2 linked regions of the Homo sapiens genome follow. The protein of the gene in region 1 purifies or fractionates together with the protein of each later gene. This does not show direct contact. Each region holds a gene or a part of one and is shown in the gene's direction. Other genes may lie near its edges.

Evidence for each region. The genes of interacting proteins can lie anywhere in the genome.
Region 2: the proteins of PAQR9 (region 1) and CYP51A1 purify together in Homo sapiens (affinity purification with mass spectrometry, with the first as the bait; one large-scale study listed by BioGRID). This does not show direct contact.

The regions. Positions count from the first base shown.
Region 1 is NC_000003.12:142,960,875-142,965,070, reverse strand, and holds the start of PAQR9 (membrane progestin receptor epsilon), read left to right. Parts: upstream 1-1,396; 5' UTR 1,397-1,734; coding exon 1,735-2,868; 3' UTR 2,869-4,196. UniProt on the Homo sapiens protein: Plasma membrane progesterone (P4) receptor coupled to G proteins. Seems to act through a G(s) mediated pathway. May be involved in regulating rapid P4 signaling in the nervous system.
Region 2 is NC_000007.14:92,127,978-92,131,477, reverse strand, and holds part of CYP51A1 (lanosterol 14-alpha demethylase), read left to right. Parts: intron 1-2,421; coding exon 2,422-2,598; intron 2,599-3,500. UniProt on the Homo sapiens protein: Sterol 14alpha-demethylase that plays a critical role in the cholesterol biosynthesis pathway, being cholesterol the major sterol component in mammalian membranes as well as a precursor for bile acid and steroid hormone synthesis.

The DNA.
Region 1 (4,196 bases):
GCGATCTCGGCTCACTGTAACCTCCTCCGCCTCCTGGGTTCCAGCGATTCTCCTGCCTCAGCCTCCCGAGTAGCTGGGACTACAGGCGTGCGCCACCACTCCCACATAATTTTTTGTATTTTTAGTAGAGACGGGGTTTCACCGTGTTGGCCAGGATGGTCTCAAATCTCTTGACCTCGTGATCTGTGTGCTGGGAGTACAGGCGTGAGCCACCGCGCCCGGCCTTAAGCCCCTTTCTTTAAGGCTCAAGGGCATATTTTCACACTGCAGTGCATCACAACCGTTTTCATTCTTCCAGTGTTCCTTTCTTCTGGTCTCCAGCCACCTGCCAGGTACTTCTGATTAATTACATATAAGATTTATCCAAGCCACCCCCTCCGTTTCTACCAACTGGACTTCATTCTCTTCAGTTCCTGCTAGAATGCACCTCCTACCTGAAGTCTTCCCTCATCAATGCCCTCCATGATCAGCCTTTGACTCTGGAATCCCTTAATATATTCCTCAGATCATTAGAGGTTTTCTGAGTCATCATCTGAGATTTTTCATTAAATTGTGGAGTTTGAGCAGCCAGTCCTGAGCTGTCGGACTCAGTTCCAAATAGAAGTCCTAGTTAAAGACACAAAAACAAGAAGATGGGTTAGCTGCGGCTCGAAGAGCTGGTGAGCGCGACCACAGGGCAGCTTGCGGACGGTTCTTTCGGACAGGACAAGGGCGAGGGAAACGGCAGAATGGTGACGCACCTGAGTGCGCCCACTAGACGAAAGAAGACCAACTAAGCCTTCGTGTAGTGCGTAGACAGGCCGACACACACACACACACACACACACACACACTAACACACACGCAAAGACAGTGAGGGAGCGAGAGGCGCATCCCCAGGTAGCTGACAATGACACGGCCCCGATCCGGACGCGGGCTTAAAGCCCCCCGACTTCCGGAGTGCCCCCCTCCCCGGCGACCTCCGGAGATTACCGCTGGCGCATCTCTCCGCCCTGCCCGGCTCCGGCGCCCTCCCCTCCCCCCGCAGCCGCAGCTCCCCGCCCCCCGCGAACGCGGCTCCCCAGTGTCCTCCAGAACGCCCGCGTGGCTGTCGGGTTTCGAACCCCAGGGCCGACTCTAGTACTCGGCGCGCGCGCCGCCGCGTCGCCGACCAGCCTGCGGCCCCCGCATCAATCATTAACGGGGCGGCCCGGGCTGCGGCGGCCCGAGGAGGGGGATGGTACGGAACTCGAGACAGGGGACAACTCTATCCCCCGAAGCGGCCGCGAAACCCTAGCCTGGGAGGCCCCCGCCCTTCCTCGGTGCGCCCGTCCCTCCCTCCGCGCCTCGGCTCGCACATCCCCACCTCCCGCTCCGGGGGCGGCGGCGGCGGAGGCACCCGCACCGCGCGATGCCCAGTCACCGCTGCCGCGCTGCCGCCGCAGTCAGCCGCGCCGCCGCCGCTGCCGCAGCGCGGGCGGCCGCGCGCCGGTAGCAGGGGCTTGGCGAGGAAGCCGCTGAGCCTCGCGCGCTCCGCGCTCCTGGCGGTCGCAGCGCTGCCTATTAATTGATTCTCTTATTGATTTATTTAATTTTTAGGAGCGGCTGCTCGGAGGCACGGGTCTTCTCCTAAACCTGCAGCGACGCCCCCGGCGTGGGCACAAAGGCTCCGACGGCGGCCGGCGGGGGCTGCCCAGCGCCCGGGAGCCGGCGCCAGAGGTCGCCTGCGCGCGCCCTAGCCGAGCCCCGGGCACCATGCCGCGGCGCCTGCAGCCCCGGGGCGCGGGCACAAAAGGCCCTCCGGCCCCGGCCCCGGCAGCTTCGGGGGCCGCCCGGAACTCCCACTCTGCCGCCTCCCGGGACCCCCCAGCGTCTGCCAAGCCGCTGCTGCGCTGGGACGAGGTGCCCGACGACTTCGTGGAGTGCTTCATCCTGTCGGGCTACCGGCGTCTGCCGTGCACGGCCCAGGAGTGCCTAGCCTCGGTGCTGAAGCCTACCAACGAGACGCTCAACTTCTGGACGCACTTCATCCCGCTGCTGCTGTTCCTGAGCAAGTTCTGCCGTCTGTTCTTCCTGAGCGGCGGCGACGTGCCCTTCCACCACCCGTGGCTGCTACCGTTGTGGTGCTACGCGTCGGGAGTGCTGCTGACCTTCGCCATGAGCTGCACGGCGCACGTGTTCAGCTGCCTGTCGCTGCGTCTGCGCGCCGCCTTCTTCTACCTGGACTACGCGTCCATCAGCTACTACGGCTTCGGCAGCACGGTGGCCTACTACTACTACCTGTTGCCAGGCCTCAGCTTGCTGGATGCCAGAGTCATGACTCCATACTTGCAGCAGCGCCTGGGCTGGCACGTGGACTGCACGCGCCTTATCGCCGCCTACCGCGCCCTGGTGCTGCCTGTGGCCTTCGTGCTGGCGGTGGCTTGCACTGTGGCCTGCTGCAAGAGCCGTACCGACTGGTGTACCTACCCGTTCGCGCTGCGCACCTTCGTCTTCGTCATGCCGCTCAGCATGGCCTGCCCCATTATGCTCGAGAGCTGGCTCTTCGACCTGCGTGGGGAGAACCCCACACTCTTCGTGCACTTCTACCGCCGCTACTTCTGGCTGGTGGTGGCCGCCTTCTTCAACGTGAGCAAGATCCCCGAGCGCATCCAGCCGGGTCTTTTCGACATTATCGGCCACAGCCACCAGCTCTTCCACATCTTCACCTTCCTCAGCATCTACGACCAGGTGTACTACGTAGAAGAGGGCCTGCGCCAGTTCCTCCAGGCGCCGCCTGCCGCACCCACTTTCTCGGGTACTGTGGGCTACATGCTGCTGCTGGTGGTCTGCCTGGGGCTGGTAATCAGGAAGTTCCTAAACAGCTCCGAATTCTGCAGTAAAAAGTGAGCCTCCGCCTTGGAGGAGACTACTGGTTCGCCCATCTGTTTGGAGTTTCTGTTGTTGCTATTGTTGGTTTGTTTTCAAATTTCATTGTGTTTTCTTCTTTGCTCAAGGAAGGTGCTGCAAAACCATAGGGAAAAAGTTCACTGCTACAAAGGGATCCCAACCCACTGGAGGCTTTGAAGTAGGGAGGTTGGCAGGGGTGGTCAAGCGGGAGGGAGATAGTCACTTGTTCTTGCCCCTGGAAAAAATTCAGGTGATGTCTTTGACATCCAGGGATTTCTCAAAGGCAGTGAGTAAAATCCCAAATAAAGCCCCAAAGAGTTTGCTTTTCCAATCATCTGTGCCATTGGTAATAAGGAGTAGCCCCTGTGAGGTCAGGTACACAGTAAAGAGGGTAAATAGAATCCTTGGGAACTTCTGTTTCAGTCTGAGGAATGCTTGGATTTGTCAAAAGAATGGAGCTTTGTAGGAAACAGGCACAAAGACGCAAACCCAGGGCTTAACCTGCTAGAAAATGCATGGAATGTGAACACAAGTTAATTATTTCAAAATGTTTTTCAGATGTTATTTAAATAGTAATATATACATTGATTTTTCATAATTTATCAAAGCCTGTGGTACGCACTGAATTTTCTTTGTCACATAGTTTTGAATTTCACAGCCTTCTGCATTGCATACACTTGAACTGGACATCAGGGGAAGCTGCTTGAGAGTTCTCAATTACTTTCTTAAACAGTGTTTTCTGAAGGCGTGTGTCATGATACAACTGTGAATTCTACCTTAGGGACTCTGGTTAAACTATTGGTGAGGAGCTCGAGTGGTTTGTATAGACCCCAGATTTTTGTTTACTTTAATGTATTCCACAAAACCCATCCTGGTTTTTGTTAGTTTGTTTTGTTTTTAATCTTTTTTTTTCCTTCTCTACTTATTTAAATTGCCACTGGAATAAATGTGCCTTTTGAAGCAAAGTCCAAATGACTGGTCCTCAAACACAGTTTCTTACATGGGGAGAGTAGTAAGAATAAGCTTTTCTTACCTGACTGAAAATCAAGGTTTCATGGTCCATCCAGGAGGGCAGAAGATGGTGTTGGTTTCAAGTTTTTGGTGGGATTGGAGATAGCTTACAGGAGCGTGCAGAGCATTTGGGTTCCCAACAAGGACAAAGAGCCAACCCTCTAATGTAGATGTGTTTCTAATGCAGCCATGGGAGAAGTTCTAGACTGATGCCATCCATCCTTGCTTAAAATTAAAAACATAATATCCAAGAATAAACAAGGCAGTTTTATTATGAAAGGCAGGAGCACATTATTGAGTTGTCACTGAAAATTTTG
Region 2 (3,500 bases), on another chromosome or scaffold:
AAAATTGATATTAATTAACCCTCATTTTTCTTTACCATGCATCTGTGGGGTTTTCTAACCTGCTCTATACATCTTCTGTGATTTCACTGTCCACTTGAATGACCCACATGACACCATAGCTACTCAATTATTTGCCCGTCTTCTCTCTAATGAGCTTCCCTGTGCCAGTTAAGCCATTTACTTCACAGTCTCGCTTTGGACTTGTCACTCTTAACTGTTTCACTTCCACAATATTAATTTAGATATCCTATTCGTAGACCATACCGTCTCCTGGTTTGCTTGTGCAACTCCTTAAATTATAACTATTCTTTGACCTCATTGGATCTTGCATTCCATTTACTTTCTCCTGATCCATCAGCCTTCATTCTTCACTTTCCTCTTTCCGCTTTGGGTCCATGGCATGTCGTTTCTGTTACACTCTTGGCAATACTGTACTTTAAATTTCCTCGACCCCGCATCTTTTCATTGTGTTCAGCTGGCAGAAGTCACCCTTGGAGGCAGCCAGTTATTGTCTCCTTCTGCACCAGATTAGTTTCTTCCTGATTTTATGATTGCCTACCTTAATGATATTTGAACACTGCTCCACAGTCCTATTATGTTCTTGTGATTGGGCCTACTTTTCCACTCATTACAGTGACTAATTCAAACCTTCACTTTTCTAAACTTCTGAATCTTTCTACCTCTCCATCAAAGCAGATGATTTTTTCTCCTGTTTAGGAGACAATGATTAAAAACGTTGATTTAGGAGACAATTATTAAAACATTCAAAGAAAACTTCCTCATTTTCTCAATTTCAAATATGCAAACCTACTTGTATTTATATAGTAATCCTATTCTCTTTCTTCCTATCACAGTAATAATTATCAAACACTTACTTTATGCCAGTACTTAGTGCTTTACAAAGATCATCTCACTGAAGCTCCACAAAAACCCTTTCAGGTATATTTGTTTTATAGATGACAAAACTGAGAAGCAGAGAGGATATATAATTTCTTCTTGGACTCACTGCTAGACAGTGGCCAAGCCAGGATTTACACATGGTCTGATTTCTGAGCCTATACTTTTATTAATGATAACAATAATGGAAAACAAGTCATTAAGATGCTAAGTAAGCCAAGGTACTCTTCTCTGCCCTGTATATAAAATTTGGCAGCAGCTCTGTGAAGAACTGCTATTATTATTATTACCATTTTATAGGTGAGAGAAACGAAACACAGAGAGACTAAGTTCTCTGACTATAGGACCAAAGTCATACAGCAAGTAGGTGGAGGAGCTGGGATTTGAACACGGACAGTCTGGCTCACTGCGTTCTACCACTTTGATTTTATTACAACTATATTTTGCCTCTTATCGGAGGCTGAACTCTCCATCCCTCTTTTGTCTCAGGAACTTTTTACTTTTATTTGTTTTCTCAGTGTATTGTTGACTTCTTTTTCAATGGCATCTTTCCTTTTTCTCTGAAAAATTCTTGTCACCCGTTTAAAAACTTCCTCAAAATGGCTTATGAGGCTCTGTATGGTCTAGCACTGCCTAATGCTCAACTCTCATCTCCTCCTTTCTCTTTCTCTTACTTTTAGGGCCTTTGTGTATGTTTAGCTACCAAACCAGCTCCTCATTCTTCTGGTCTCAACCTAGTTGTCTTTTCCTCTATTAGGTCTCCCTTTTTTAGATTCTCTCATCACAGAGTTGCTTTCCTTTCTGTAATACTTGTCACATTTGCAGTTTTATGTTTGTTAATGTGATTATTTGATTAATTTGTATTTTTTCCAATAGACTAAGCTTGGTGAGTTGGGACAGTATTTTTTTTCATGATTATACCCCCAGAGTCTAGTCTTCAATCATAACCAGAAAACTGCAAGGGAAAGTATTTAACATCTAACCAAATTAATATAAAATAAAAAATGAAGTCATTTAGTGTAGGTGAGATAGTGCTAAAATAGATAAATAAACTTGTAGTGTCTTCACATAGCAGGTACTATAGAAAAGGTCAAATTCTTTGGCTAGTCTTGTAAAATTTGTTTTTAACCAAAGGGGGAAGAAGTCTATATTTTCAGAGGTGTTCATCACAGAATTAGCTGTAATAACTAAAGAAAACCCTGACATATCACCCATATGTCCAATAATGAAAGAGTAGTCAGTAAATTAACATTGTGATGTTTATATAGACAATAGAAAACATTGTCAATATAAACTGAAAAAAGCATAATAAACAGTTATATTTATACTACATTTGCAACTAAATGAACATAATTATAAATTTGGACAAAGGAAGGAGGAGTATGGCAAGATGAAAAGAATTGCTTTAAGGTTTATATATGTTTTTATTTTTTTAATAATGCATTATTTTGTGATTTTAAAAAGTTACTGTCGTAGTGTTGCATATTTTTTGTAACATCACTATATGTACTTTTCTCTTTTTAGTATGGACCTGTATTTAGTTTTACCATGGTAGGCAAGACATTTACTTACCTTCTGGGGAGTGATGCTGCTGCACTGCTTTTTAATAGTAAAAATGAAGACCTGAATGCAGAAGATGTCTACAGTCGCCTGACAACACCTGTGTTTGGGAAGGGAGTTGCATACGATGTGCCTAATCCAGTAGGTGACACTGTTACCATAAATAAAGACAAATCTATACCTCAGTAGTTATAGCTAATAGTGAGACATTATACATTTAAAATGTAGAAACAGCCAGGCATGGTGGCTCATTCCTGTAATCCCAGCACTTTGGGAGGCCAAGGTGGGTGGATCACTCAAAGTCAGGAGTTCAAGACCAGCCTGGCCAACATGGTGAAACCCTGTCTCTACTAAAAATACAAAAATTAGCTGGGTGGGGCTGGTGGTGCACACCTGTAAATTCCAGCTACTTGGGAGGCTGAGGCATGAGAATCGCTTGAACCCAGGAGGCGGAGGTTGCAGTGAGCCGAGATCACAACACTGCACTTTAGCCTTGGCAACAGAGTGAGACCCTGTCTCAAAAACAGAAACAAAAAACCAAACACACACACACACACGCACGCGCACACACACACACACACACACACACACAGAAACCAACCAAACAAAAATGTAATAAAATGTAGAACCAGTTTATTCCTTGGTTCAAAAGTCTGAAGAATCATGAGAAGAAAGGCCATGGATAACTGATAAGTAATGGGTATTTAGTTTTATATTTGCTGTCATGGCTAAACAATATTAAAGGGCTTCCTGTACAAATAATGGAATCAATGATAACTTAGCATACTGGGATTTAATTTGAAAGGGTTATTAGACAATGCTGTTACTTCATCAAAAGGACTTCCTGCCTACCCATTCCTGCCTGAAATTCTAACATAAGCGCTGTTTAGAGATTGCTGACTTCAGAAGTCCTCTTTTAATGCAACAACTTCACGTGTGGGGTACATCTATGTGTATGTTTTACCCTCAAAAGCCAAATACGAAATTGTTTTAAGTTGATATAGAACACAAATCAGACAATTGGCCCCAATGCTTGGTATGGG